Homo sapiens: one gene and its partners. The protein of the gene in region 3 purifies or fractionates together with the protein of the main gene of each other region. This does not show direct contact. Each region holds a gene or a part of one and is shown on either strand. Other genes may lie near its edges. The genes, in order: ARPC5L, ARPC1A, ACTR3 and CST4.

Region 1 (7,243 bases), on a different chromosome or scaffold from region 3:
CCACTCCTCGGCAGTTTCAGGTGTAGCTGTGGGGCCCGTTCCTAGGTCTGTACTCACTTTAGGGAGGCTTCACTGACTAGGCTTTCCTCCTGCATGTTGAATTTCCTTCAGCTTTAAGAGGAAGAGTGGAATAAATATTCTAAGTGATTTAATGCACTTTGACTTGTATAAAACTTTCTGTGTTAGCGACGGTATCTATAGCCCTTTATACGAGCGATGGATCTTGAGCTCTCCTTCCATGTTGTAAATAGGGATTGTATTCTTGAAAACTGCTGTAGCAAATTCATCTGTGGTGCAATACACTTTTTGATTAAAGCTCTTCAATCCAGATGCAACTACAATGGATTTTACTAGTTTGGTGTGTCAGTATTTCTTTGACTCATTAAATCTGGTATTTTGTGTCTCATATTTAACACTCCAAGGCCAACCTCAAGGGCTAGAGAATGTTTGTCTTTCTTTCAGAAAGAACCTTCCCAGACTGGATTTGGGTGAATAAATATACGTAATTTAATGAAGCCAACAGCCCCATTCTACCCCCCCCAAGAATTGCAGTGGTTCTGAAGAGGGACTGAGGAGGGGAGAGCTGTGGAGGGGAGGACTGTGTCACTTTGGTCAAAGTCTGTATCCAAAGGCTGTATGACCCAGAGGAGCTTCTGGAGTGTGAATGGGGCCCTAACCTTTAACAGAATGCAAGCTGCAGTCACATGTGCTGAAAAGGAAAGAAAAGCATTTTTGCCCTTCAGAGAAGCTCTGTTATTGGTTATGGGGAACCAAATTATACCATCTATTTGCTGATTGATTGCTCCCCATTTCTGACGTTTAGTTCTTTAAAGAAAGCTTGTCCATGCAGCAGTGATTCTGCAGCACAGCCAACCCAGCATCAGGAGACGTGACCAGGCACATCTGAGGCCCCACCCTCAAAAGATTCCAAGTGCAATCCCACAAACTGAAGACTTTTAAAGCCTAGATCAATTATTAAATGTTTGGCACTTTATTAAATTAATTAAATAAGCTCCAAAATTAATTACATACAAATCAAAGGAATAAGAAACAATAAATAGTTTATTCAGCAAACACCTCTCTGCAGCAGCCGGCAGCTCTGAGGCCGAGGCTGGCGTCCTGTGGCAGAGGGCCTGTGGATTGCCATGCTCGCTCCCAGGGGTGGCTCAACAGGGACACAGGTCTACTCCTTCCACATCGGGTTTCCGGAACAACAACTGAACTCTCATTCATTACCATCCCATTCATTACCATTTTTTTTTACATACACGAAACACACCGCAATGTATAGACTAATAAGCCAAGAGCTTTATTGATGCAGCAGGCACTTTACAATGAGCCCAAGAGTGTCCACCTTCTCTGGGAAGACAGGATGTCTGTACAAACTCTTGGGTTTTTTTCCACTTCAAAAACACAAGCTCTCCCGTTTACCACAGCCCTTGGATCTGCACCTGCCCAAACCATCCCTCCCCCAGTGCACACAGGTGCATCTGACCAACACCAGCCGCCACGCTGGTAGACCGTCAAAATGTCAGTTCTGCAGTACTCGGAGACAAAGGCATAGACTATCAGATCCTAAACAGGATTTAGGAAACAGACGATTTTCCCCTCCACCTTGAAAATAAAATACATTTCAGCAGATACATGTCCTGAAATAGTTTACTTGGGAGTTCCTAGGAAGATGGTCCATTGTCAATCCCTTCTTCACCAGCCTGGGCATCCAGAATTCTTCTCAAGGTAACATGAGTCTTTTTATTTTTTTTAAACAGTCTTTCTTGCTGTAAGAACTCTTATAATGGAGCCTAGTCCTCCTACTGCTAAGGCCTGTGGGGGCAGGAAAAGAAAACGTGTCAGATGAGACCTGGCTGGCCAAGGGGAGCCTGGCTTGCCAGAGACAGGGGGGACATTCCCTGACCTAGATCCCGTCACAGATCCTCGAAAGAGGATTCCTGAGATAGAGCACATTCTAGGGAAGGAGCCCTGTCCTGGAGCCGTGGGGTCCCGAGAGCTGTTGGCTCTTGGGCAGAACTGGCTTGAGAACACTGTCACCAGCACACAAAGCAGAGCCCTCGAGCTTCCCTTTTGAGATGGGGTCTCACTCTGTTGCCCAGATCACAGCTCACTGCACAGCCTTGATGTCCTGGGTTGAAGCCATCCTCCTGAGTAGCTGGGACCACAGGTGTGCACCACCAGGCCCGGCTAATTTATTTTTTTTGAGACGGAGTTTCGCTCTTGTCACCCAGGCTGGAGTGCAATGGCACGATCTCGGCTCACTGCAACCCTGCCTCCCCAGTTCAAGCGCTTCTCCTGCCTCAGCCTCCCGAGCAGCTGGGATTACAGGCGCCCGCCACCACCCCCGGCTAATTTTTGTATTTTTAGTAGAGACGGGGTTTCACCATGTTGCCCAGGCTGGTCTTGAGCTCCTGACCTCAGGTCATCCGCCTGCCTCCGTCTCCCAAAATGCTGGGATTACAGGCGTGAGCCCACCGCACCCAGCCTAGTTTATTTTTTTGTAGAGATGGGTTCTCACTACATTGCCTGGGCTGTTCTTGAACTCCTGGGCTCCAGCAATCCTCCTGCCTCAGCCTCCCAAAGTGCTGAGTTTACAGATGCACACAAGCCCACTGACTGCCGCCCGCTGAGGTGACTGGCAGGCACCAAGCTGCCTTAAAGGGACGAGAGGTCCTGGCCTCCCCATCATACAGAGGACTTGTTTACTTCCTTGAGCCCAGGAGAGGGGAGGCCAAGGAGGTGCAGCACACCCGCCAGCAGACCTAAGGCCACAACCACAGCCCAGCACCCACACCACCTTAAGGACTGGCCCACTGTAAAACCCCTCTCTTCCAACTCAACACTGAGCCTCTGAGGAAGGCAGGCAGGTTAGTAACTCCTGGTCTGCTTTAATGGTGGGCGTGCTTACTGCGGCACTAGGGGTGTGCAGGGGAGGGTGTGGGAGGCAGCCCCAGTGGTACAGGCACGACACAGGCTTGCCAAAGGCCTTGCTCTCACACGGACCCAAGCGAAGGGCAGACACAGCTCTTTCTGCTTCACCTGGACGAAGGCCATATTAAGTGAGGTCAAGGTTTCTGCCCACTGCTCACTCTGGCCTGCTAAGGCTGAGGCCAGGGCAGGAAGCCCTTAGAGCTGGCTGGAGGACTCTATTTCTAAGAACCCCCAACAGCTGCCTCCACCACTGCAAGTATCATGAAGCCCCAACCAACCAGCAGGCCCCCTTCCTACCTAGACTCCCTGACCACCTTACTATGCCATGTTATCTGCCCACATGTCCTGTACCAAGGGCACCCTGTCTTGCCTGACATAAATCGGCAGCTAAAAAGCAAAAAAGTAACTGCAATTACCACAGACAGCAGGTCCCTACCAGGAGCTTCCTTGGGAGAGGGAAGTGATGACATGTCCCAGGTTGGGGCTCGTCCTCTGACCCCACACGCCTATCAGACCGTCCTACGTTTGTTCTGGAAAATCTGGCCTGCTGATCGAACCCCAAGGCAAGCCAGGTGGCTCACTGGGGCGCGTGGCAGCGTTCACATACCTTTTCGTGCCACTGGAGTAACACTGCGCTGCTATTTTCTGTGGGCTTCTCAAAGCCTTTATAAATGTACTTCATTAACAAGTCAACGCCGTTTCTGTCCAGTGACTGCACAGCCTGCTCAATCTCACTGCTCTTGAAGTTTGTGAGCACTTTCAGCACCACGCCCTGGGCTCGCTCCTGCAGACGAAAAAGAGCAAGTGAGTCCCAGAGCTGCGAAGGCACCGCCATGCCATGCCCCACACCAAAGCAAGGACACAGATCACCAGAAACACTGCCCAGTTTCTAATTCGTCCAGGATGGTTAAAATAAGTGGGTTAGAACGTCTTTTGTGGATTTAAATTTCAAAGTATCTTTTATTTATGCCAACAAGTTACCCTACTTATTTTGGGGGAGTAAGTAGTTTACTAGGACAAGTATCAACTCTGAGAGAGAGAGAGAGAGAGAAGAGAAAAGAGGGAGAGAGGGAGGGAGGGGCAGGGTCTCGCTCTGTTGCCTGAGCTAGAGTGCAGTGGTGCAATCTCAGCTCACTGCAGCCTCTCCCAGGCTCAAGCAATCCTCCCACCTCAGTTAGGGCTACAGGCACATGCCACCATGCCCAGCTAATTATTTTTTTTATTTTTTAATACAGACAAAGTCTCGCTATGTTGCCCAGGCTGGTCTCAAACTCCTGAGCTCAAGCGATCCTCCTGCCTCCCAAAGTGCTGGGATTACAGGCATAAACCATGGCACCCAGCCCATCACTATTTTAGATGACACCAATAAGGCCTTATTATACTCCACAATGGTGGTGGACTATTAAAAAATAAAAATAAAACCAGGTTGACTCGGCTGCAGCGTCCCTCTTGTGTTCACACCCAGAAGGGTGGGGCCATTCCCCAGAACTCTGTGAAGGTGCAGCCACTGGTGACATCAAGATGCTGTCACAGCTGCCAGAATCCCAGCTGCAGGGAGACCCCTTTCTCTGAACCAAATTTTAGACTTGGTGATGCAGTAAGCACAATTTAGTTTTTAGAAGGTAGGAAAGCGTACGGGTACTTAAAATCCTCAGGCAGACAAAGCCTATTTAACAGTCTGTGGGAGCATAAGCACCACAGGTGAGCGAATTCATCCATTTTCCTCATCAGCCAGGGCCAGGCTGACTTCTCAGCCTACGAGGCCGTGAGCAGGAGTGAAGGCTTCTGTGGGGAGGTTCTCGTATATAAACGCTGACAGCGTTGATGTCAGAGAAGCCTCACCACCTAGGGAGCGCCAGGAGGCTTCCCTGGAAGCCCCGCCCAGTGCCAACTCACTCCCTCTGATGTGGATGAAAGCTCACACTCGCACTGGGCAGACACCCACAGCCCTGGTCCCAACAGCACCCAGCAGAGCCGCAGCGCCACCCCTTTACCTTCACAGCTTGATTCTTGGTGTTGACGGGAGAGTTCCGCAAGGCTGCATGGAATGCCCGAAGCATGTCCCCTGTGCATCACCACCAGTTAAGGATAGCTAGGCTCAAGCACATCCATGCCGTCATGAACAAGCTCACTTCAGAAACAGCTCAGGAACAGAGTCAGATGGGATCTCATCCATACCACCCACCTTCCACGGCTTCCAGGGGGGCAGAGACGGTTTACAGCCTGCACAGGGAGGCTGCAGGGCACCTCTGCCAACCATGCAAACCCTCCTTTCAACTCCCTCTCTACCTTCCACGTCAAAGCAACTGTCCTGGAGGGGTAACTTGATGTAAAATTGGATTGTGCTCACTTGCACCTGCTTGGTGCTGAGCACTGTATCTCCCCTACTGGATCCTCACAGCACCCGTACATGTGAACTGGAGGTCGTTCTCATCTTCTCATTCTAAAAAAGCGGAAAATGTAGGTACAAAGGGAGACCTCCTAACTCTTCATCAATGCTCTTCATCAATTAAACTATTAAGGAAATTAAGATGTGCTAGAACTTCTAAGATCTATCGGGATCAATGAGGTCCCAACTGTTACCTGGAAAGAGTTTATCAATCTAACAGAAGCTTTTGCCAACAATGAGCCAGTCTCCACCCTTACCCCCCAACCTCAGTTGCAATCCTGACAACACATTCTTTGCTGAGTTCTGAATACCCAGCATGCAAAAGAAAATTACAATCTGGGTTAGGTCCCCAAAGGTGACACCTATTTTAAACTGAATTACATCAGCCAACTTTCATTTCCTCGTATGAAACACTGGCTTCAGCCAAAAAGCTTCAAAAATAGAACAAGGAATGGCTTCTGCCCAATCGGGTCTCTACTCCTCTTCATGCAGTGATACCCACGTGCAGACAGGAAGGGCCTTCGGAGCAGAGCTGAATCTCCTGGCTTCCCCAGTATGAGATCCATCTTGAGTGAGCTGGGTCTGCGCCACCAGGCAAGCCACTCCCAGCGCTGGTTCCCCAGCTCCCTGCTTGGCTCTGATCCACCTTCCACACTCAAGAGGCAGTCCAGTCCCTCTGTCTTTCAGTTCTGGAGTTCCTTTTCCCCATCCAAACAAGGCCAGCCTGATATCAGCCACTGATAACCTCTACTTTGTAACTCCTTTTTTTTTTTGAGACGGAGTCTCGCTCTGTCGCCCAGGCTGGAGTGCAGTGGCGCAATATTGCCTCACTGCAAGCTCCGCCTCCCAGGTTCATGCCATTCTCCTGCCTCAGCCTCCTGAGTAGCTGGGACGACAGGCGCCCGCCAGCACGCCCAGCTAATTTTTTTTGTATTTTTAGTAGAGGCGGGGTTTCACTGTGTTAGCCAGGATGGTCTCGATCTCCTGACCTCGTGATCTGTCCGCCTCGGCCTCCCCAAAGTGCTGGGATTACAGGTGTGAGCCACCGCGCCCAGCCCTTGTAACTCTTTTCTAATGTGGTGTCCCCAAAGCAATAAGCAGGATCCCATAGGCTGAACAGAAAACATAGGCTCACTTGCTCTTCATGTAAACCTGGCACAACTAACAAATGACATCATTCAAATGATGGATGGGGAAGGGCAGGTATAAAACTAGTCCACGGGGGCAAAAAGCTACTGCTGTGGCGTTAACTCAGCACCACGCGTCCAGCAATCACTCGGCCCATTGATGGGTGAGGGCCTTCAGCAGTTGGGAGATGTGGGGCGCAGGGAGGACCTCCCTGAAGTCACCTATCATTTGTGAAGCCGGCTGTCATACTTGGCTGGCTTTAGGCCTTTTCAGAGAACAGGCTGTGGTGCTGAGGGAATCCTGCCCAGCCCTTGATCTCCTCTAGATCTTCCTCAATCACGGCACAACTGACACTGTGGACCCAGGATTCTCTGACGTGGGATCTTAGCTGTGTGTCATAGGCCTCTGCCCACTGGATTCCAGTGGCATCCCCAAGCTGTAACCATCAAAATGTCTCCAGTTTCCTGGGGGTGGAGGGGAAGGGTGCAAAATCGCTCACAACCACTGCTCTGGACAGAGCCCTGATCCAGAAGTATAGAAGCTGCTTCACTGAAGGGGAAAGGAACTCATACTTTTAAATCGCCACAAGGTCTCGGATCCTGTGCCAGGTGCTTTCACACGCCATCTCATTCCAAAAATCCTTGTGACAATAATCATTATCTCATTTTAAAGGCAATGGAATTGAGGCTCAGAGAACAGAAATTACCTGCGCAAGGTCACAAAACTAAGCTGTCTACACGGCCCTCACACCCAAGCTCCTCCCACAATCCCATGCTGCCGCTC
Region 2 (8,139 bases), on a different chromosome or scaffold from region 3:
TAATTGTTTCACTTTGGAATTTGCAGAGACTGCTGCCTGGAATATGAAATGAGAAAAATACTGTTGTCAAGAAAGACAGGGAGAAAGGGAGACACAGAAAGAGATGGTAAGAAAGAGACAGAGACAGAGACAGAGAGAGTACATGCTAATCCTCCCCTCTAAACCATAGATATTCTTACACTTAAGGAAATCTTCGCTGGCCCCACCCTTGCCTCTCCCTCCTACCCCACTTCCAAGTGGATTTCTTTTTACCTCAGTGACTTATGAACTTGTTCTTTTAATCACCATGCTTGAGCTCCTTTTCTGGATCACAAACTGCTTCCATTTTTTTGTTTTGTTTTTGTTTGTTTTTTGAGATGGAGTCTTACTCTGTCGCCCAGGCTGGAGTGCAGTGGTGTGATTTCAGCTCACTGCAACCTCCACCTCCCCGGTTCAAATGATTCTCATGCCCTAGCCTCCCAAGTAGCTGGGATTACAGGCATTTGTGACCACACCAGGCTAACTTTTATTTATTTATTTATTTTGAGACAGAGTCTCGCTCTGTCGCCCAGGCTGGAGTGCAGTGGTGTGATCTCGGCTCACTGCAAGCTCCGCCTCCCGAGTTCACACCATTCTCCTGCCTCAGCCTCCCGAGTAGCTGGGACTACAGGCACCCGCCACCACGCCCGGCTAATTTTTTGTATTTTTTTAGTAGAGACGGGGTTTCACTGTGTTAGCCAGGATGGTCTCGATCTCCTGACCTTGTGATCCGCCCACCTCAGCCTCCCAAAGTGCTGGGATTACGGGCGTGAGCTACTGCGCCCGGCCTCTTTTGTATTTTTAGTAGACACGGGGTTTCACCATGTTGGCCAAGTTGGTCTTGAACTTCCAACCTCAGGTGATCCGCCCACCTCAGCCTCCCAAAGTGCTGGGATTACAGGTGTGAGCCACAGCACCAGGCCTCATTTTTGAGTCCCTCACAGTGCCTAGCGCAGTACCTTGCAAAGAAAAGGAAACTTACAGGCCAGGCACACTGGCTCATGCCTGTAATCCCAGCACTTCAGGAGGCCAAGGAGGGAGGATCACTTGAGGCCAGGAGTTCAAGACCAACCTGGGCAATGTAGCAAGACCCCGTCTCTACAAAGAATAAAGACAATTTTAAAAAAATTAGCCAGGTGTGGTGGCATATACCTGTAGTCCCAACTACTCTGGAGGCTGAGGCTGGAGGATCGCTTGAGCCCAGGAATTGGAGGCTGCAGTGAGCTATGATGGTGCCACTGCACTCCAGCCTGGGTGAGAGTGAGACCCTGTCTCAAAACAACAACAACCACAACAAAACAAAAAACAAAGAAAGAGAACCTAAAATTATTTGTTGAAGGATGAAGAATGCACGGCTCAAGTTTATCAGTTCTCACTGGTTCCCACCTGCATTTGAAGTCACATGATCCTGCTGCCAGCAAAACGTTGTTGGGATGCCAATCCAAGCTGAGGACTGTGGAGCGAATCGGCTTTTTAATGTGCTTGCTCACCCACCTATGAGAGGGGAAAACTGTTTCAGTTTATCCACTCAACCAGCATCCCCAAATGACCTACAAATGTATGTCAGGTGAAAATACCTAAGTAGGCCACACTTTTCCTTAATTTAAAAAAAAATTATAAAACAATTCAGAATATTATTTTTTTCAGAATAAACTTTTTCAGATAGGTTTCTATAAAAAAAGATTCTATAGAAAAGTAACAGAGCATTCAACGTTCTTCTGTCGGTCACCAGGCCTTCTGCCAGAGACAAGGTTTTTTGATACCAGGTTATGATCTGAGACTGGCTAATTTTTGTATTTTTTGTAGAGATGAGATTTCTCCATGTTGCCCAGGCTGGTCTCAAACTCTGGGGCTCAAGTGATCTACCGGCCTCAGCCTCCCAAAGTGCTGGGATTACAGGCATGAGCCACTACGCCCAGCTGACAAGGTGCATTGCTAAAGGACAGAAAGGAAAAGAACCATGAACAGGCCTTCTCCACTCCTGGCCCTGATGTTCTCAGCACAACAGCTGGTTTTCAGCAGTCCTCATTAGTAAGCATAGATATTGATTAACTCAGTTATGTTTTCGTGAGATTTCGGATTACATAGGACGTTAACCTCTGAGATAAAAACTGAAGTTTGAAAATACTTCAATTTTTATTATGAATATTCAGTGATTTGCTGAATTTTTGGTGAATTTGGGGTTGTAAGACAGCTTAATATCCTTCCCAAGTCTCCACGAATCTGCAAATTCTTTTTAATTTCTTTCACTGAAAAATCACAACCAAGAAATTAGAAGAACCTCATGTTGGGGATTAGCCTCTAATTCGCTAGCACCATCCAAAAAAGATGATTTATGTCTAGGACCAGTCAGTATTTTGGCTTAACTAATTCATTTCTGCCCCCAAACTGCTGTTTAAAAACCAATCACGTCTGGTTGCTCAACAGTTGGGAGACTAAATATTGAGCCAATGCCTTTCCTTCAATGCTAAATTACCTTTCTATAGAATCACTTTCTTTCTTTTTTTTTTTTTTTTGAGATGGAGTTTCGCTCTTGTTGTCCAGGCTGGAGTGCAATGGCGTGATCTCAGCTCACCGCAACCTCCACCTCCCGGGGTCAAGCAAGAATCACTTTCTTTTATTTATTTATTTTTTATTTTTTTGAGACAGAGTCTTACTCTGTCATCCAGGCTGGAGTGCAGTGGCGCAATGTCAGCTCACTGCAACCTCTGCCTCCTGTGTTCAAGCAATTCTTGTGCCTCAGCCTCCCGATAGCTGGGATTATAGGCTCACGCCACCACGCCCGGCTAATTTTTGTAATTTTAGAGGAGATTAGCTTTCACCATGTTGGCCAGGCTGGTCTCAAACTCCTGGTCTCAGGTGATCTGCCTGCCTTAGCCTCCCAAAGTGCTAGGATTACAGGCATGAGCCACCACGCCTGGCTACAGAATCACTTTCTTAGTATCCTGTCTGAAGAAGTTCATTCTGAAAAAGACAGCCAGGTGCAGAGGCTTGCAACTATACTCCCAGCACTTTGGAAGACCAAAGCAGAAGGATTGCTTGAGTACAGGAATTTGAGATCAGCCTGGGCAAGAAAAGTGAGAACCTGTCTCCACAAGTAATCAAAAAATTAGCCAGGTGTGGTGGTGCAAACCTGTAGTCCCAACTACTTGGGAGGCTGAAGTGGCAAGACTGCTGGATCCCAGGAGTTGGAGACTGCAGTGAGCCGTGTTTGTACCACTGTACTCCAGACTGGGTGACAGAGAGAAACCCTGTCTCAAAAAATAAATAAATAAATAAAATAAAAAACCAAAATCCCCCACAAAGTCTCTAAAAAAGGAGAAAAAGACAGTATTTCGAATTGTTTCATAATGTATACATATTTTTTGAGACAGAGTCTTGCTCTGTTGCCCAGGCTGGAGTGCAGTGGCATGGTCTCGGCTCATTGCAACCTCTACCTCCCTGGTTCAAGCGATTCTCCTGCCTCAGACTCCCAAGTAGCTGGGATTATAGGCATGCACCACCACACCTGGCTAATATTTTGTATTTTTAGTAGAGATGGGGTTTCTCCATGTTGGCCAGGATGGTTTCGAACTCTTGACTTCGTGATCCGCCTGCCTTGGCCTCGCAAAGTGCTGGGATTGCAGGCGTGAGCTACCGTGCCTGGCCTTTATAATGTAATTTTTTTAATTAAGGAAAAGATGGCAAGCAAAATAATTAGTTCATATGGCTGAATTATAAACTTCTGAGAAGTTGTTTTAAAGTACTCCTATGAAATATGAAATAATTGTTCTACAGCTGAGAAACTGCCCTAAACATACAGCTTGTTCAAAGACAATACCTTGTACCATAATAAAGTCCAATTTACCTATACTTGACACTAATTCTCAACGAATAAAAATGTAAACAATTACTGAGGTTGAAGCTTAACTTGGAAGAAAAGTTTCCTGTAGAAATTTGTAAGATTGCAAGGAGTACCAGCTGACATAAAGTTTAGCCTTGAGAGAATATTAATGAAGTTAGTTTCCTATCTCATTACAATGAAACTTCCAAATAGTTTCTAGCAGGTAACATTTTGTTAGCCTTGATTTCACATTTGAAAGAAAAATGTATGTTTCAAATTCGTAACTCAATTTTTTTTTTTTTTTTTGAGACGGAGTTTCACTCTTGATGCCCAGGCTGGAGTGCAATGGCGTGATCTCGGCTCACCGCAACCTCTGCCTACTGGGTTCAAGAGATTCTCCTGCCTCAGCCTCCCAGGTAGCTGGGATTACAGGCATGCACCACCACACCCCGTTAATTTTTTTGTATTTTTAGTAGAGACAGGGTTTATCCGTGTTGGTCAGGCTGGTCTCGAACTCCTGACCTCAGGTGATCCACCTGCCTCGGCCTCCCAAAGTGCTGGGGTTACAGGCATGAGCCACTGTACCTGGCCCATAACTCAATTTTACCGCAAATTCCCAATCTCTTTTTGAAGAATAAAATTTCTGAAGTTTTACTAAATTACAAAGGTAACATGATAATCCCCTTCTTTCAATTTCAGCAGAATACAAATAACAAAACAGCTACAAAGAGTCATGTATACTCTGCTATTTTTAGTAGAAACACAAACACTGCCAGTTTAGTAGTAAATGACAACTTTACGTTGAAGGATATTTACCAGTCATGCTGAACACATGCCACACAGAAAAATAATTTTTTTTTTTTTTGAGATAGAATCTCACTTTGCCGCCCAGGCTGGAGTGCAGTGGCACGATCTTGGCTCACTGCAACCTCTGCCCTCCGAGTTCAAGTAATTCTCCTGCTTCCTCCCAAGTAGGTGGGATTACAGGTACCTGCCACTGTGCCTGGCTAATTTTTGTATTTTTAGTAGAGATGGGGTTTCACCATCTTGGCCAGGCTGGAGAATAATTGTTTCCTTATCAAAACAAACAGGAAGGAGTAGTTAAAATAAGTTTTGGCCATAAAATAAACCTGTGTTTTGACTGGGTCAGCAAGAAGTAATTTAAAAAATGTGCAATAGCTGATTAGACTTCTAAGATTCTGGTGAGTTTTGACTTCAACAGTTTAAACAAGTAAAATATTACACCAAGACACAGATTTGGTTGGCAAATAAGCTTTAAAGAAGGAACATTGACCAGGCGTGGTGGCTCACGCCTGTAATCCCAGCACTTTGGGAGGCCGAGGCGGTGGATCATGAGGTCAGGAGTTCATGACCAGCCTGGCCAAGATGGTGAAACCTTGTCTCTACTAAAACTACAAAAATTAGCCGGGCACGATGGCAGGTGACTGTAATCCCAGCTACTCAGGAGGCTGAGGCAGGAGAATTGCTTGAACCAGGGGGCGGACGTTGCAGTGAGCCATGATCGTGTCACTGCGCTCCATCCAGCCTGGGCAACAGAGTAAGACTCTGTCTCAAAAAAAAAAAAAAAAAAAAAAAAAAAAAGAACATTGTTATCTGTAGGAATCCTACATAGATATCCTGTGAAAAAAAAAAAAAAAGAAAAAATATTCCTCAGGGAACGGAGACTCTTTCAATGTTATTATTTGTAAATGAGAGTAAGAAAACAGCAATTTGCGCAGTATAGAGTGAGAACAGTAATAGCATCTTGCAGAAGAAACAAGTTAGGCGATCAGAACATGGACACAATAGCTCTATGTTAATATAAAAAACGTGCGATTTAACTTAACATGCACATGAGAAGGGAAAATGCTCAGACAGAATCGAGAATTTCAGAGAAAAAACCACACAACTCCGGATGAGAAAAACTGGAGTTATGGTGAGCCCTCACACAGCAGTGCAAATGTAAATTCTATAGAGAGGGATAGAAAAAATTCAGATGTCACTCACCAGTCATTTTCAGACTCAAAGTAACAAACAGAAATGAGTCGTGCTCCACTTCCCACAGCAAATTTGTTCTCTAGGGGGGACCACTTCACAAAAGTAGCTGCGCGATTAATTCTCAGGATCACCAGGGTTGGCTTCCAAACACCATCTTTCTGACTCCAGACATAGGCATTGCGGTCTGCCCCACAAGTGACAATGCGGTCGCTCTTGGGAGCCCAGTCAATACCTGCAAGTGAGACATGGGTCATCTGCTTTGCCCAGTCAATGACAAACAACTGCGGCACAGGCAGGTGGGTGGCACTGGCATGCCAGGATGAGACGTGGTCTTGGGACCTTCCTCCCAGGCACATCCTTCCCACTATCTATGTCCTGATCACCGCCTCAAGGAAAGGCAAGGATGCTTCTCTGCAAAGCGTCTGGGACTCGGGATTGTCTATGAGGTCATGTAGAAGAGCTGTTTTATAATTACAGACTTTACAAAACTAAACGGGGCCATTCTTTCCACCCATTCACACATTTCTAAGACTTCTAAAGATCTGAAGATTCATTACTTCTTTCTTTCCTCTTTATTAGATTTTTGTGTGTGTGAAAATAACTGTATTCATTAACACACCTCATTCTATGATATTAACCAACAGTCTGCTACATGGCATTCAACTAAAACAGCATACAGGGTAAATAAAAATAATCTTTAGTGTAAAGAGGGGGAACTATATATTGTGATTCATCATATATTCTTCTGAAAGTCACTGCCAGTTGAACCATACTGAAAACCTTTTCTACATGATGCAGGTCCTGTGAAAGAATCCTTGTTTCTTTGCATCTAAACCAGGAAGATACCTAAATATGTATCTGAATGTAAGGTTTATTTTTCTTATTTGATGAGACTTTACTTATCTGGTACCTCTGTGAAGAATCCCAAAGTCAAGGTCAGTTTTTCATATACCAAGACTCAAGGTCAGTTTCTTATATACCAAGAGCAAAATTCACCATGACTCATTTAACACTTATTGATGAGGTATTTTCTTTTCTTTTCTTTCTTTTTTTTTTTTGAGATGGAGTTTCACTCTTGCAGCCCAGGGTGGAGTACAATGGCACGATCTCAGCTCACTGCAACCTCCGCCTCCCGGGTTCAAGCGATTCTCCTGCCTCAGCCTCCCGAGTAGCTGGGATTACAGGCAGATGCCACCATGCCCGGCTAATTTTTGTATTTTTAGTAGAGACGGGGTTTCACCATGTTGACCAGGCTGGTCTCGAACTCCTGACTTCAGGCGATCTGCCTGTCTCAGCCTCCAAAGTGCTGGGATTATAGGCATGAGCCACAGTGCCTGGCCTTGATGAGGTATTTTCTATAAATATAATTTCACATTAAAAAGTACAGAAATATTACTAATAAATATTTATTACAGATCTCTCTCTAAAAATTAATAATTAGCATTCTTGACATTTATATGGAAAAAAGACAAATATACCTCTGAGCCTCAATTACCCATAAGTCATAGTGACTGAAGAGTTAGGCCGGGCGCGGTGGCTCTTTGGGAGGCCGAGGCAGGCGGATCACGAGGTTAGGAGATCGAGACTATCCTGGCTAACACGGTGAAACCCTGTCCCTATTAAAAATGGAAAAAATTAGCCGGGCGTGGTGACAGGCGCGTGTAGTCCCAGCTACTTAGGAGGCTGAGGCAGGAGAATGGTGTGAACCCGGGAGGCGGAGCTTACAGTGAGCCGAGATCGCACCACTGCACTCCAGCCTGGGTGACACAGCGAGACTGTGTCTCAAAAAAAAAAAAAAAAAAAAAAAAGTAGTATGAAGAGTTTAGTTTATTCATTCATTTACCCACATGAAATATCAGCTCAATTTTTTGTACCACTGAAGGGAAGAAAATATGAGAATGTGTTCTAAGTGATGTTTATTTTATTTATTCATTACAAGATAATTTTGCTTGCTGTCCTCTTTATTAGATTTTTTTTTTTGAGACAGGGTCTCACTTTATCACCTAGACTGGAGTGCAGTGGCGTGATCATAGCTCACTGCAGCCTCAACCTCCCAGGCTCATGAAATCCTCCTACCTCAGCCTCCTGAGTAGCTGAGACTACAGGTGCAAGCCACCATGCCTGGCTAATTTTTTGTAGAGATGGGGTTTCACCATGTTGCCCAGGCTGGTCTTGAACTCCAGGGCTCAAGTGATCTGCCTGCCTCAGCCTCCCAAAGCACTGGGATTACAGGTGTAAGCCTGATCAATATTTATTATTATTAAAAAGAAAAATCATTATCTTTTAGAGATGCAAACTGA
Region 3 (8,139 bases):
TTATTTTATCATTATTATTTTATTTATTTTTGAGGTGGACTTTCGCTCTTGTCACCCAGGCTGGAGTGCAATGGCATGATCTTGGCTCACTGCAACCTCCACCTCCTGGGTTAAAGTGATTCTCCTGCCTCAGCCTCCCAAGTAGCTGGGACTACAGGCATGCGTCACCACACCTGGCTAATTTTGCATTTTTAGCAGAGACTGGGTTTCATCATGTTGGCTAGGTTACTCTTGAACTCCTGACCTTGGGATCTGCCCACCTTGGCCTCCCAAAGCAAAGTGTTGGGTTTACAGGTGTGAGCCACTGCTCCTGGCCTTTATTATTATTATTATTTTTTATTGAGATGAGGTCTTACTATGTTGGGCCAGGCTGGTCTCAAACTCTTGGGCTCAAGTGATCCTTCCACCTCAGCCTCCCAAAGAGCGCTGAGTTTACAGGTGTGAGCTGCTGCGCCTGGCTGAAGCTTATGTTTAAATTTATATATATATATTTAAGATAGAAGAGTCCATCAATACTTGGAGAAGAACAAAGCAAATTCCTTTAAATTGTATCTCAAAATAATAGGAAACTTTGTATATATGTGTTTGTAGTATTTTAAAAATTGGAAGTAATTTAAATTTAATTGGAAGTCATTTGAATTTAATTTTTTTTTTTTTTTTAGCTTGCTAGACATTATTTTAGAGTGACCATTTTATACTATGTTTTAAAGTTTATCTGTAGGGAAAGTTCTGTTAAAACTGGTAATTTAGTCATCAGAAGGTCCTTGTTTGTTCTGTTTAAGTATTTAAAAACATTAAGGTAAAAGTTAAGCTTCATTGCATAGAAAGTATGATGTTTTACACTGAATAAAGGGAATTATTCTAAGAATCCTGTCCCCAAATTAAAATGTCTTTAAAGCCCCCTAAAAAGGTGTTCTAGTGTTCTAATACCATTAACCTAGGAAGTATTGGTGCTTTGTTCTGGTAGTGCATGCAATATTAAAATGAAGGAGCTTTTATCTGAATTATTGAATAACTGTACAACTTTGGATTTAAAACCATTTCCAACATAAGAGGTGAAAGTTATTTTTTTCCTCAATTTTAGTCTTCTTCAATTGGGCCATATAACCTAGTTGAGTTTGTGACTTTGCCTTGAGAAATGAGGTAACACAGCATGGAACAGTCTATCTTTTCCAGACCTTGAATGAGGAAGGCAAATGATCTAGACATTTCTTAGAACTAGACGAAAAATAGTCATAGCATGACTAGGAGTAGTTTTATCTGTAGTTAGGCGAATGCCGCTTCTTTACATTATTGGTGCAATGAAAGTATGGGAAAGTCTCAACAGAACAGACTGGACATTTGAGAACCTTCCATTTTTCAAAATTTCAGAATCCTCGCAGCAGGTGTGTGAGACAAGGATTGGGGACAGGAGTTAATTGCTCTTTTGGAGTTCCGATAAAGATTTATAGCTGATTTTAAGTCATGGCTGCTAGAATTTCTAAGCTTTCATGCCATGAATGGACTAATAATAAACATTTTAGACTTAACATCTATTTTAAAGCATCACTCTTAAAGTTTATTTCAATATACCTTCAAGATGGTAGATTTTTGACCCTTATAAAAATACATATTTTTTGTTTTCAGCCTGAGTTCTACCAAGTATGCCACACCAAAAAGGATTATGAAGAAATTGGACCTAGCATTTGTCGTCACAATCCAGTGTTTGGAGTCATGTCGTAAAATTGGCTTCATAGTTATTGGGGTTAGGGAGGTGGGGAAGAGATAATCTTTCTGATTACCTGTTTTGTCTGGATGGCTGGTTTTGAGGTTTTAAACCTGACTTGAAATAGTAACACCAAACATGATTATACAGGAATATTTTAATAAGTGTATCACCATGCAGATGTAGAAGAGAGCGAAAGTGATTGTGTTTTTCTTTAGATTGAATATTTGAATCTTATGTGTAACAAAAAGAAGTGGGTTTTAGTTCTTTCTGTGCCCTGATATTTTGTATATTAATGAATTATCCAAGATTCGATGGGATTTATCAGTGTGTAGATAGCTCTATAATGCTTGAATTGTACACTTCTAAGTGTGCAGTGCAAGAGCTTGTTTATATTTCATACTTTTTATACTTTGAGGAAAAAAAGTCAAAGAAAAATTGTATTTGAGGGAAAAAACCATGACCAAGTAAAGGATAAATTCAAAAAATAGCCTCATGAGACTTGGCATACACACTCGTGGGATTCCAGTTATTATGGAGTGCTTCCATCCCTCTCCACCCCTTCCCCCCAAAAGGTTTTCTTTGCAAGTGCTTTTGGAACTAAGAGCTAGTATCTTGGATTAACTGATGCCTGCTAGTGCTTTCTGATTACTCGCATTCTGTTTCTTGCTTTAAAAGAAGAGTAAAGACAAGAGTGTTGGACCAGTATTGCAGTTCTGTAGTGTCATTTCTTATAAAAAACAAAACAACAACAATAATTTATCAAAATTGGCATATTTAAAGCCTAACATTCTAATAAAGGCACAAATTTCTTTTTAATACTTGTTTCAGCCTCTTTAATCTCTTTATAAGTTAACTAATAAATCTATTTTCTTCAGACTTCTGCAATAGTTCTTTAAAATCACAACAGTTAGCAAGCTGACTTTTGTAATGTGCTCAATACAAATACTTGTGAACTTTTAATATGTTGAGTGCTTTCATTTTGATAACTGGATCTCCATTTGATATTTTCATTTGTATAACTCATTTGCAGTCTGAAAATTTTTTTTAGTGCCAGTCCCTGAACATATCATTGAAAGTTAATTTTCTTTGCATTTTAAAATATCTGGATTATGAAGAAAAAGTGATGAAAATAAATTAAAACTGAATTACCTTTTCTAATGTTTTTTTTTTTTAAGTAATGTAATTCTATTTTGTTTTTATGTATGTGATATCTGTTTCTGTTGAGATTTGGGAGTTATTGAAATCTCTGTAATGTGTATGGTAGAAAATTTCTTGTGACCTTAAAATTTTACCAGTTATTTATAGAAAGAGAAAATGGGAAATGTTTTATAGGCTTTTTACTAGCAGTATCAGTGAACACTTGAACTCCATTATTCATGAAAATAACACGTTAGGATTGGAATACGTCTATTCAAAAGTGAAAGAATATAAAGTGTTTAGTTTTTTGTTTTTACTCTAAAGATAGAATTGGGGAGTAAACTTCAGTTTTTGTTTAGAGTGGATCTGAATATTTAAAATCCTATAATAATTTTTGTGAATCTTCATTCTTTGAGTATGGGATTGTAAAAGACAAACTATATCCTACAGTAGTATCATCATCAGTATCAAAGGTCTCCTTTTTTTACTTGGAAAAGTAATTCACAAACATTATAAAAATACTATTCAAACAGTACCAAAGAGTAGATTAGCAAAAGTAAGTTTTTTTCCCTAGCCTGTCTCATTTTTCCATCATTACACAGACTACTTGGAATGTCTTAGATGTCCTTGTATTGTAATTTTCTGTGTAGGTAGAAATAAATGTAGCTTTCTTATTTTACACAAATAGGAACTTACTGTATATACTGTTCTGCACTTTGCTTTTATTAAAGATCTTTTGATAAAGAACTATATTGATAAGCAGTAAAGATGTCATGCTCCTGGCCCAATAAAATATTGTTAGCATTGTCATAAATATGTCTTTTCCACCGGCGATGGTTGGGTAGTTAAGTGAATAAGCTAGAAAGACATGTTTATAAAGCTATTTGATGACAATCTCAGGCATATTTATACAGAGATGTTCTTAACTGTTTGCTACAAAAACATGAAGATCAAAAACTTTCTTGAAGCTTACGCTTAACTTATTTGGGGAAACAAAACTCCAGCCCTTCTTGTGTATGTTCTGATATCCCTTTGCTCTACTTTTAGAGGAGTGAACCCTAATAGGATGGTAGCAGCATTCTTGTTTCTTTATATCTCTCCTCTGTGATTGTATACCGTTTTTTCAACTTAAAGCAACTTCAGCTGGAAATATGTAGAGGTTGGCCAAGGTGAACTAAATAGTCTGTAACATTGATTAGATATCAAGCAACGTGAGCATGGTAGCAAAAGCACTAACTGAAGCCAGTGATTTAATTTTTAATTCTGATTCTGATAATTGATGATATAGCTCCTCGAACTTTGTTTTTTGTTAAAACTTGGAAAATATATTTGTATTATTTTGGACAAATTATTTGAACTCTCTGGACCTTGATTCAATTTATATATAAGGTAAAGGCATTATACTGGATTATCCTGCAATTTCTTTGAGTTGTTAGAATATAATGTAGCTTATTAATAGCAATATTAGCAGTGTAGTAGATTCTGACTGCAAAACCTAGCCTTTTCTATTGATTCATTAGTGGTAGTAAAGGTATTATCTGATTTATCCTTTTTAATAGGCAGTGCTTTGATCAAGTGGGAAATAGTAATGGACAAATAAAATCAATGATCATTATCTAACTTGATGCCTGCTTTTCAAAAAGTGAGCAAATTTCACATCTTCACCCTTAGACATTAATTCATGGCACCTACTATAAGTACTCATCCTCTTCTTACCTATCTTCTTTTCTATAGGAGATAAAGTGGTTATTCAGACCCCCCAATACAATTTTTTGGTTTGTTTTCACAGCTACTTAAAAGATTAAAATAACTATTCTTGCAGATATTTCTAGGAATATTTTTAGAAATAATATGAAATACAGGGATAATAGGCCAATTATGATCTTTATTTTTAATTTCTACAGAAAAGTACTAGAGAATATATCTATAGAAACTTCTTTCAGATAACCCTAAAGATGATACTAGAATGTTTATAAAATTATTGAGAAGATTATTTGTGTTATAAAGCTTATTTGTACCATAGTAAAGGATGTTTTTGTTCCTCTTCATTCTGGGCTAATCTGTCAATACTGAAGTCCAGTCTTTTCCCCCTTTTCTTACCAGCTCAACCTTGATTCCTGTGACCCATTCTTTCTGATCTTTCGTAGTTCATAGTCACCAGGCATGAGTACCTTGGATAGCCCTCTGAAGTCTGTTACCACCCAGATTTCCAACTCGGGTTAATTGGTACTAATTCTATTAGCTGGTATAAATAATCCAAAATCTGTGCAGACTCTGGGAGCAAAATGTTCTACTCAGTTTGGAATACTGTGCCTTAAAATATATTTCATTGTAACAGCACCTTGTATATATAGTTGGCCAAGGACAGAGTTGTTACAAGTTACGTGGAACTTTCATAGCAAATCTTGACAGTAAATACCTTGTTCTTGTATTAGGTCTATATCCTGAATTGACCTTTAGCAAGAATCTTTAGATCTGCTGGAGGGCTGGGATGGCTTTTGGACTTCAGTGAAAAAGAATTTCTGCTACTCATTGTTGATAACGCTTCAGTACTGTATAAATGTTTATCCTTTTCCACGTAATTTGTTTTCTATGATATGAGAACTTTTATTATAATTTGCCTCAGTCTTGATAGAATCTTAACAAAAATAAAATCTGTGGTCGTCTGAGGTATTCTCCATGCTATAACCCAGTTTAGCTGATGCATTTGGAGCTTGGGTGCTGAAATTAAATATAACCTATTTGAGTTAAGGATTTATTACTAGTGCTCCAGTGGTCACAGGAACAATAAAAAAGGAACAACGATAGAAATACGTGATCTAGGAAAGAAGGCAACTGAAAAACCTGAAAGAAAAAAAATGAAAGATTAAAAGTATACGATATTCTATTTTGATTTAGCAATTACTTGTTTTCTAGTGTTCTGTCAATTTTTGGTGACTTTTATAATTACATTAAAACTAAGATGCTGAATTAAAATAAAGTTTCTCTTTTATTCAAGCACCAACATTCACTTATATTACCTATATATTGCATCAAGTTTTGAGCCTTCAATCCCAGAAGCATTGATTGACTGTCTACTGTGGTTCAAGTACTGTGCATAAAGATGAATAAATATTCTGTCCTTGGCTTAGTCTAATAGTAAAGGCACTCTTAGAGGAGGGACAAATATTTTGCCTAGATAAGATTTGAGAGATAGTAAGTGCGGAATTTCTCTTCATAAAAATGGTAGTGTTAGTTGTTTAGAGGGAGAAGTCCAGCTATGTAAGGTGAAAGTGGGGCTTATAAAAGTGGATCTATTGTTTAAAAATTAGTACTTTGCTCCTAAAATTTTTACCTAAGTGTTACATCCAACAACAGATGAAAGTAATTCGACAGTAGCATCTGCTTTATTCATTTCATATTTCCAGTGCCTGACATATTGCTTGGCATATAGTAGTTTAGTGGATGTGTTTGATGAATGAATGAGTAAAAATTATTTTTCATGTTAAAATAAAACTTTGAATTACATGAGTATACAACTTTTGTTCCTTCAAAATACCCATATTTGTCAAATATGACCGAATTACGACTTTTTTTCTGTTCCACTAGTTTCTACCTTAGAAGTGACATTCTGCGTAAGGTAGTGGGGGATTACTAAGTGATCATGACTTTTCTGAAGCAGGTCTTAAATAATTATCTAAGCCTTCAGTCATTTCAAAATCTCTGTAGTGTAAATGATCACAGGCTCTAAATCAGATTGTTGTACAAGGTAATTGACATGTCCTGAAATGTAACATTCAACATTAACAGTAGAAACAGGCCTCATTTCTCCCTCTGGCTTTTATTGATCAATTTTGATATTGTCCAGATCCCATGTTAAACCACTTGATTTAGAGATGACTTAATTCTAAACTTCCTCCATTTTTAATTAATAAGATTCAAGGTTGCAGTAAATTGTTAATCTTATTTGGAATTATATTAGAAAGTCGATATCGGAATTGGAACCACACATCTTTTTCTTATTGTGGGTACATGGGATCTTTCCCAAATAAATTCCTGAGCAACAAGAAAATCTGAGACTTGTTTTAAATGCTAAAATGATTAGTTGGAATAATGTATACATTCATGAGATGACTAAAGCACTAGTGGGGTAGTTTCTACTGCAGTAGACTGATTTTTCTTAGCCCAAACCTTGAAAGATGAATGTTTTAGTAGATGGAGAGTAGGTGGGGATGATATTTTAGATATGGCAGAAGCAACTTGAGTTACAGCAATTGGGGAGGGGATTAGAATATTGTGATTAGGAGAAGTGAGGAGAAGAGTGGGAGAGAAGACTGAAGGATATCTGACACCTTCAAACACACCCTCAAACACAAACATTGGCTAAAAAAGTTGATGCAGTTCAGGGTGAAATCACACACATGATTGACATAAATAACATTGTGGAAAAGTGACTTTGCAAAGACCACACAGGTAGTTGCAGAATAGAACTTACTGGTTATAATTTTTTTGATATTTTACTGAATAGCATATGGTTTATTAAATTTTTTTCAAAATTAATTTGGCAACATTTCTTAGCTTCTCTGACTCATTCTATTGGGAAAGCTGATAGCAAGATTCCTGTGCTAGACTACTAGAGGGAGGTATCAGATGACCAAGTCATGTCTGATACTATAGTTACCAGATAGTTACCAGGCTAATGTGCTGAACTAAGGAAGGAGCCTAAAACTCAGCAGTCTTTTTGAGATTGGATTGGACTTTATGAATAGGCAATGAGCTCTTAAAAACGACATTCCATATACAGAAAAACTATGGGGATTTCAGACTGCCTAATTTAGCTTCTCCACGGGGCATACTTGAGGTCGTTCACATTTTGGCTATGTATCTCCACATTGGTGCTAAGTTTGTGTACCTCGTTTCTGATTTCACTAATGCTGAAAGTTCAACTTGCCAGTGACCTAAGTGGATCTTTTATGAATTAGAAAGTACCTCACTTGGCTTTTGAAGACTGGTAAAACATTTTTAGGCTACAAATAAAAGGGAAGTTTGTAATGATGTTATAAAATACAATGCTTGGCATGTGGCAGATGCTTAAACATTTGTTGAATAAAGTTATCTTCCTTTTAAGATGGTCCATTGAAAAAATGGAGCAGCCGTTATATGTCTATATATGTTTTAATGACCTCAAGCTCAGAGATCTGCTAGTGATCTCACCTTTAGATAACATCTGAGTTGAATGTCTGTGGAGTCCCCTGCCACTGGTATATCTCAAAAGAAATAGCATTATTTGGTCTGGGCAGTACTGTCTTTGTCTA
Region 4 (8,150 bases), on a different chromosome or scaffold from region 3:
GAGGCCTGGCCCCTGCCTGTGGACACAACCAGCCCCCTCCTCCTGGTCTGACCAGGACCTCAGACCAAAGCACCAGCCCAGCTTCTGGGGCAGCTGCCTGGGCCCCCTCCTCTCCCTGACCCCCTCGCCAGGGGCTGCTGCAGCTGAAGGCTTGGGTTTCCAGCCCCTGGCTGCTCTCTCCCTGTTCTGAAGCTGAGGTCTCCAAAAGTGGCAGCAGCTCCCCTGATGGCCTTGCTGTGGCCGCATCAGCTCCCAGGTACTCCTGTGATCTCCACACCACCAGGACAAGGAGGCTTCATAAAGGAACTGCAGAAACTCTGCCTGTGTGCACATCCCCAGACAGCCAAGAACTCAGAGGGAGGCGATGCTACTGTTTAATTGCAGGAGGTGGGGGTGTGTGTACCATGTACCAGGTCTATTAGAAGCAAGAAGGAAGGAGGGAGGGCAGAGCGCCCTGCTGAGCAACAAAGGACTCCTGCAGCCTTCTCTGTCTGTCTCTTGGCACAGGCACATGGGGAGGCCTCCCGCAGGGTGGGGGCCACCAGTCCAGGGGTGGGAGCACTACAGTGGGTGGGAGTGGGTGGTGGTCGGTGTGACTGGCCTGGCACAGACCCCTAGGCTTCTTGACACCTGGAATTCACCAGGGACATTCTGTCCTCCCAGGGAACTTCGTAGATCTCGAAAGAGCACAACTGTTTCTGTGAAAGGGAAGAGAGAGGGCCAATCAGTGTGGGTTACAGTTAAAGGGGAAGATGCCCAGGCATGAGATGTCACAGCCTGGGTGAGGAGGATGGAGGTGAGACACTGCACCCTCACCCACCCCTGCTGAGTCCCAGAGCACTGAACTAGAATGAGTAGTGACTGTACCATTACCCCTCCCAAGGCTCCAAGTCACCAGGTGGCATTGGGCCCCCACCCCAGCCTGCAGTGTCCTGTCCCATCACAGCCCTGTGAGGAGCAGCCTGGGCAAGGCCTCGGGAGCCCCAAGGGTGCAGGACATGGGGAGGTGGCTCAGTTCCCCCAGCTCCTTCCACCTCCAGCACCCAGGCCAGCACTAAGAGGGGCCAGAGGGAAGAACCCAGGGCAGGGCAACTCCCCCTCAAAGAGCTGGGGCATGGGTCAAGGGCAACAAGGGGAGTGCCGCTCTCCCCTGAGTGGAGACCTCACAAGAACCAGCAGGTTCTTGGAGAGGCTGGTGTTGGGTGAGCCGGGCAGGTCCAGGGCTTCCCAGCTAACAGGCCTCTAGGTCCCACTAATCTGATTGTGGCTTTGGCTGCATGCAGGTGCCTGAGGCTGGGATTAGACAGATCCCCTTCTCCCTGCCCAGCACCCAGCCCCGCAGGTGATTCTTCCTGTCCAACAGGCAACACCCCAAAGCAGGCAGTTGACCTTCTAGTAACCATTCCCAAGCTAAAGCCTTCCTAGCAAATCAAACACATCACCCCCTCCCTCACCACCCCATCTGCACACACATAGGCAACTACGTAAACTCACTTGGACCCCTCATCCCCATGGATCTATGTACAAACCCCCATACTTCCGCCACACACCCACACACAGGCACACATGCTTCCATACACCTACCCGCACACACTGGCACATGTGTGTACACACGTGCACCTTTCCACATGCACACCTACATGCACACCCCCCCATAAGTACATGAACACGTACACATCCATGCATACACGGCTCCCCACATACCCACCTGCACACACACACCGTCCAAACATGGGTAGGACAGAGGCTGACACATACGCACCCCTCTGCAGTGCATGACTGGCCCGGGACCCGCATCAGGAACGTACCTTCTGCAGTTCTGGCTGTTCATGGAAGGCACAGGTGTCCAAGTTGGGCTGGGACTTGGTACATATGGTGCGGCCCACCTCTACGTCGAAGAAGTAATTCACCCCCCCAAAGGTCTGCACACAGGAGAAAACAGGAAGCACGGACAGCGCCCCCATCAGTTCATGCACTCACAGGCACTTCACTGTGGCTGAGTCACTGGACTTGCTTGGGGGCTTCGTGAGCTGCCCACATGTCAACACAAGGCACACAAGCCCCCTCTTCCTGTCAGCTGGCAGGGTGCTGAGCCTCATGCCCGCTCTTAAACATCGTTTTCTCTGTGCTGGGTAAGAGGATTCATTGAATTCTGCTACCTGTGGCTCAGGGGTGAGGGAACACTGACTCTTTTCTAGGAAGGCTGTCTGATGACAAAATTTCAGCTAACTCACGAAAATCTTATTCCCTCCATTTAACCTAGATTTATTACTTCACTTAGAGTAGGAAATGAGATGCTTCACACACACAGATATTTTGGGTCAATGGGGCCGCCCAGATGCCACCATTTCAAGTGTGAGGTTCAAGATACGTTTCTCAAGTCAGCAGCACACCTGAGTGTCTTACAATTGCAGATTATAATTGAACCCTTTCCCTGCACAGGGCCTCTCCCAGACACTACGTGGCAGAGCTGTGGAGAAACCTGGGATGAGGGACTCTTTGGAACCAGGAGGAACTGCTGAGATCCCTCGAGTATCAGTTTACCCATGTATAAAATAGGCTTCCAGGTCTGATGGTCTGCAATGCCCTGTGCTTCACTCCAAGTTACTGTCATGCTTAAGAGGGAGATGCAGGCCAGCGGGGACCATGGCACCAGGGAGTGCACCTCCTGTGCAGGGTGAGGGCTCCAGCTGACAGCTGTAGGAGGAGAAACGGGACTGGTCTGGATTCCTTTGAATTTCTAGAAGGTGGAGGAGCTCTAAAGGCTGTGTCACTATTTGCTGCTCTGCCATGGGATGCAGGTCAAGCTGGGCCCAGTTGCCCTGCTGAAGCTCACTCTGGACCTAACCCCTCCTCTGCTCTGCTGGGTGACTGCTGTCCTCATCTGGCTGAGGTCTAACTCTGCATCAGCTCGTAGAGGCAGGGCCAGGCGTGCTCCACCCCAGCAGGGACTCAGCCATCCTGGCCTGCAGGGGTGGGTCAGCCTGCCTGAGGGTGAAGGCCACTAGCCCTAAGGGGCTGTGCCCAAGGGCATGACTTGGGGAAGGAAGAAGGGCTCTGCAGAACAGGGAGCCAGGTTCCCATGTGGCCCCTGAGGAGAGGACTCAGGGAGGAGAATGAGCCTCACCGCCTGGATCTCATCCTGAGCAGCATCAAGCCCACCCAGAGTCAGCACAGTCTCCATCCACACCTGCTGGACGCTGGGAAATGCCACGGTCATGGTACAGACACAGCAGCTGCTGCAGGTTAAAGGAAGCTGCAGCACTTCCTTTAACTGTCTGCAGTGCATGGACCGGGAGCATGCTTAGGCATGAAGGGCATCAGCGGAGAGTCAGAGAAAGCTGAATGAATCTGAGCATTAGATCATGAATGTGTCAGTGTTGATTTGCTTGGAATGCTCTTGGGGGTCCGGCAACAAACCAGGCTAGGGCTCAGGACCCCTCGGGTGGAGGCAGCACCCACCTGCTCCCTGGCTCGCAGCACCTGCAGCGGGCGTCTGTAGTACTCATCTTCGGTGGCCTTGTTGTACTCGCTGATGGCGAAGTGAAGGGCACGCTGTACCCACTCATCATTGAGGTCTGCATCATAGATGCCACCTGGGATTATCCTATTCTCCTCCTTGGAGCTCGAGGCCAGAGCCCCAGCCAGGGTAGCCATCAGGAGTAGCAGGGTACACAGAGGCCGGGCCATGGTCTCCTCAGAGGCAGAGCACAAAGCTGGAGCTGCAGGAGAGGAGGGTGAGAGCCCGAGGCAGGGAGCCCAGACCAGCAGGCAGGTGTGCATTTATCCTGCTTTGGCAGCCCAGCCCCACCCACCTCCATGCCCTGCCCCTGACTCCTCCTCCTCTTTCTGCCCATCCCCTCTTTCTCCATCTCTCTTTTCACTCCCCCACCACTACAAGCTCCCTCCCTGCCTAAGTTCCCCCTGCCCCTCCCAGGCCTCCTCCTCCATCTCCCCCTCCTCCCCACTCCAGTCCTCACTGCAGCCTCCCTGAGCCATGCCTCTCTTCCCCAGTGCTCCCAAGCTTGAGTCACCCAGGTCTCCACAGAGGTGACACTGGTCCTTTGACTGTGAAAGCAATGTGACTTCCTGTTTGCTCAGAAAGGGGAAAAATACAGGGCTTGGCCTCCCGGGGTCTTCAGATATCAGAGGCTTCCAGGAGCACTTGGTCACGGTCTCTGAATCTCTGGAACAGAGAGGTTATTTCAGAAGGTTCCAGAAGACCCTGTCCACACCCTAATATGGAGAATTTCTTTGCCAAATTTAAGGGAATTAACCTTTTTGGAAAAGGTCACTGGCTTCTGTTTTCATAACTCATTATTCAATAAACAAACCTATCACCAGTTACTGCCCATGCCAGGAGGTCTAGGGCTTGAAGACGGAACCTGGATGATGAGCCATAGAGGTGACATTGCAGAGCTGCTGCCCACAGAGATGTGACATGAACCCACAAGCATTTGAAAATTTCTAGTAGATGCATTTTAAAAGATGAGAATAAATGGGTGAAAGTAATGTTTAAAATATTTATTTAACCTAATATAGCCACAATATTATTTCAGCTAACGGGAACAATTATTAATGAGATCGTTTATGTGTGTTTTTTTTTTTTGGTTTTGTAAATCTTTGAAATTCCCTGTGTATTTTTTACACTTAGCCCAGGAATCATTTTGGACTGGCCCCATTTCAAGTGTCCTGTGGCACATGTGGCTGGTGGCTGTGGAACTGCACAGTAAATTCCTACACAGTGTGTGTAGAGGATGGTAGGTTACGATCAACAATTAGGATCAGGGAGTTATACTCACTCTGTTGGAAGTGAAATAGAACAGGGGCTAGAGAGAGACCACTGGACCCTGGTCAGGGTGGTCTCTATGAGACTGGAGAGGTTGAGCAGCCCCAGGCAGCGGGGAACAGCCAGTGCAAAGGCCCTGAGGTGGGGTTGGGACATGCCTGCTCCAGGAAGAGGAAGCTCCTGGAGGGGATGTGAGCAAGGGAGGAAACCACCTGGAGTCTCACGGTAACTGTGGGTGAGGACCGGTGGAAGGTGCACGGAGACCCCTGTGAGGCAGTGGGGGTGTCAGGAGAGGGAGCAGCAGCCACGGGATGAATGTGGGAACCCACAGGCCTCTCTTGCTTCTCTCCTAGGCAGCCATGCTTCAGGCTCCTTTCCTCTGTGCACTCCTTGGAAGACTCACGTGGCATTTTAAAAATTGCCTTAAATGAGGTAGAATTTACATACAATAAAATGCCTAATAGTATGTGCCCAATCTGGGGGATTTCATAAATGCATACACTTGTGTTACCACTTTGTCCAGACCTGTGACATCTGCCTTGCCCCAGACGGTATCCTCCTGCCTCTCCAGCCACCCTCGTGCCCGCCCCACCCTGGCAGCCCCCATCCGGCCCTGTAGACACCTTTGTCGCCTGTCCTTGAGCTTCCCAGGAATGGAGTCCTGCAGAGCGAGCCCTGATGTGTCTTCATCCTTTGCTCAGTGTGGCTTTCCAGCGGCACCTGAGTTGCTTCATTGCCAAGACTGTGAGTTCTCCTTCTCCACAGACTGAGAGGATGTGGTCAGTTGGGTGTCCTGTGGGCTGACAAAGCCCCCAGCTTGGGATGCTGTGGGCCTGGGCTGGAATGTGTCTCCAGGAGTGGGGAGGGTGGAAGGAGGCTCTGAACAGACAGCTGCTCTCGTTGTTCTCTCAACCCCACCCTCCATGCCTGAAGGTGACCCTGTGGCAAATGCCCTTATGGGGAGGTGGCAGGCTTGGCCAGAAACTCCAGGAAACCCTGGGCCTTAGCAGGACACCCAGAGGACTGTCTTGGGAGTGGTGGAGGTGAGGGTTGGCCAGTGTCAGCCCAGACCTGTTTAGAACACTAAACAATACTATAATAAACAAATGACCAAGCGCAGAAAGCATCACGTAAAGGTGCAAGTGATGAGGACAAGCTGGCCAAGAGTCATCCTGGGCTCGGACATGTCTGGGGATGGATCAGCAGGAACCTGGCAGCAGGAACCATATTACTTATGGGTGCTCATGTTCAGTATTACGACAGGGAACCTTGTTACCTGAGTCCTGGTGACCATCTCACCCCACTGTGAATCCAGCACCCCTAGAATAGCCATGAAGCCTGGCAGATACAGCAGGTGTCCCCATGGTGTTTACTGCTGGGTGAGGGAGGGAAGGTCTTCAAACAGAGCTTTACATATGCCTCCTAGTTAGACAGGAAATGGGGAGAGATTCCCAGAGAAGGGAAAGAGAGGGAAGTCCCTTACCAGGTGTTTGTGAGCAGAATGGTCATCTCCAAAGGGTAGGAGTTAGTTCTCCTCTGTGTCTCCCACCTTCCTGGGACAGCTGGGAGTCCAGACTCAGGAAGACATACATGCTGTGCAAAGGGTAAACTGAAAGTCAAGCAATCCTCTTGTTTTTTTTTTTTTTTTTTTTTTAATCATCAGAAAGGAGATGCAGGTAACCCAAATAGCGAGAATGTGCTGGTGGGTGGAGTGTGAGGGAGGGAGGCCAGAGTGCTGACCTGTGCCCCATATGTGATGACACCACCAGTGGTCATCTTCTGTCAGGACTCTGGCATGCACTGCAGGGAGGGTCAGCTGTCCTGATGCAGCAAACTCTCTAATCCCAGTAGGAAAGATACCAATGTAGGTTGCTCTTAGGAGGAGGTACAAGTGCGATGTCCAGTATGGAGTTATAGGAAGTGGCAGGTTGAGGTAGCTGGCCAGCTGCTCCAGATATTTGATGACCTTAGGTAAATGTTGTGTCTGTCGTGCATCTGGAGAAAGAGGCTACTTTCTAAAGCATAGTTTCTGGGATTTCAGACCAGCAGAGATGAGCGGACTTCAGTAGCGGTGTATAAACATGTTTGAAAATGATGGAGTAGCCAGGTGTGATGGTGCACATGTAATCCTAGCTAATTAGGAGAGTGAGTCAGGAAGATTCCTTGAGTCTAGAAGTTCAATTTCAGCCTGTGTAACACAGTGAAACCCCTATCTCAAAAAAAATGACAGAAGACTTTGATTTCTATAGTCCACAGTTTTAAGGACACACTAGGAGGGGGCCAGATAGCAACCATGGACTGAGGAACAAGCTTGGGGCCTCCAGCACCCATGTAACCTGGAGGAGTCCAGCTGCCCAGGAGGGGGCATGTTTTCCTTCTGCCAGGTGACGAAAGAGAAAGCTGTGTTCCCCTAGGCTGCATGGTGACTACTGATCCGATTATCTGAATTAGTAGGATGAGAAATTAGGTGACAGGCAGAAGTTCTCTGCAATAAATGACCAATAATAAGTGAACACTAAACAATACTATAATAAACAAATGGCCAAGCTCAGAAAGCATCACCTAAAGGTTCAAGTGGTGAGGACAAGCTGGCCAAGAGTTGAGATTCTGCACATCTGGGTTTTGAGCAACTAACAGTTTGGTCTATGGTAGGAGCTGGGACTGAGCAGCCACAGGATTTGGTGACTTCTCAAATGGGAAGGCCAGGAGTCTCCTTTATGGAGTGCCTGGAATTCTCTGGGGTCAAGCTCGTCTCTTTCACTCCATCCCTCCTTCTTTTCTCCCTCTCCTCACACATGGTGGACACGTGGATGCTTCTAAACTATGAGCCAGTGTTGGTAACACATTTGGTTCTGCTAGAACATGTGGATGCTTCTAAACTGTGGGCCCATGTTGGTAACACATTTGGCTCTTCCACATCATTAGGAAACTGTGATACTCATGGGGAAGCCTGCTGGTAGCCCTGGCTAGGAAAGGCGAGAGAGGGCAGAGCCCAGTGTCAGGTCTGATTGTTTTGCACCCCATGGGGAGAAGGAGAATCCTTTCTCTCAGGGACTAGCACGTGAATGGTATTCATGGTTCTGGAGTGCAAGTTAACATTTATTTTGCAAAAAGAGCGTTTGTCAGTGCAGATTCACTGACTGAAGAACCACATATGAATGGAGGGGAGTAGGGGCGGCCTCCGGGAACTCGGGCTGCTGGTTGCTGCAGCCAGGGATCCGTCTGAGTCCCTGGGCTGCAGCCTGCAGAGGCCTGGCCATGAGGAAAACAGATGACTCTGAGGAGGTGAGTCATCTCCTCGACATCTCTGGGTGGTCAGACTTTCTTATCCTGTTTGGGTCACTGCTGGGACTTCCCTGTC

The links.
Region 1: the proteins of ACTR3 (region 3) and ARPC5L purify together in Homo sapiens (affinity purification with mass spectrometry; 7 studies listed by BioGRID and IntAct, with this or other methods). This does not show direct contact.
Region 2: the proteins of ACTR3 (region 3) and ARPC1A purify together in Homo sapiens (affinity purification with mass spectrometry; 9 studies listed by BioGRID and IntAct, with this or other methods). This does not show direct contact.
Region 4: the proteins of ACTR3 (region 3) and CST4 purify together in Homo sapiens (affinity purification with mass spectrometry; 2 studies listed by BioGRID and IntAct, with this or other methods). This does not show direct contact.

Annotation. Positions count from the first base shown.
Region 1 is NC_000009.12:124,871,459-124,878,701, reverse strand, and holds the end of ARPC5L (actin-related protein 2/3 complex subunit 5-like protein), read right to left. Parts: exon of another isoform or gene 5,036-7,243; coding exon of another isoform or gene 5,016-5,035; exon of another isoform or gene 5,011-5,015; coding exon 4,938-5,010; intron 3,728-4,937; coding exon 3,551-3,727; intron 1,825-3,550; coding exon 1,762-1,824; 3' UTR 969-1,761; downstream 1-968. UniProt on the Homo sapiens protein: May function as component of the Arp2/3 complex which is involved in regulation of actin polymerization and together with an activating nucleation-promoting factor (NPF) mediates the formation of branched actin networks.
Region 2 is NC_000007.14:99,342,225-99,350,363, reverse strand, and holds part of ARPC1A (actin-related protein 2/3 complex subunit 1A), read right to left. Parts: intron 6,072-8,139; coding exon 5,849-6,071; intron 1,513-5,848; coding exon 1,405-1,512; intron 1-1,404. UniProt on the Homo sapiens protein: Probably functions as a component of the Arp2/3 complex which is involved in regulation of actin polymerization and together with an activating nucleation-promoting factor (NPF) mediates the formation of branched actin networks.
Region 3 is NC_000002.12:113,955,734-113,963,872, forward strand, and holds the end of ACTR3 (actin-related protein 3), read left to right. Parts: intron 1-1,626; coding exon 1,627-1,722; 3' UTR 1,723-6,863; downstream 6,864-8,139. UniProt on the Homo sapiens protein: ATP-binding component of the Arp2/3 complex, a multiprotein complex that mediates actin polymerization upon stimulation by nucleation-promoting factor (NPF).
Region 4 is NC_000020.11:23,685,280-23,693,429, forward strand, and holds CST4 (cystatin-S precursor), read right to left. Parts: upstream 3,760-8,150; 5' UTR 3,691-3,759; coding exon 3,463-3,690; intron 1,923-3,462; coding exon 1,809-1,922; intron 699-1,808; coding exon 615-698; 3' UTR 361-614; downstream 1-360. UniProt on the Homo sapiens protein: This protein strongly inhibits papain and ficin, partially inhibits stem bromelain and bovine cathepsin C, but does not inhibit porcine cathepsin B or clostripain. Papain is inhibited non-competitively.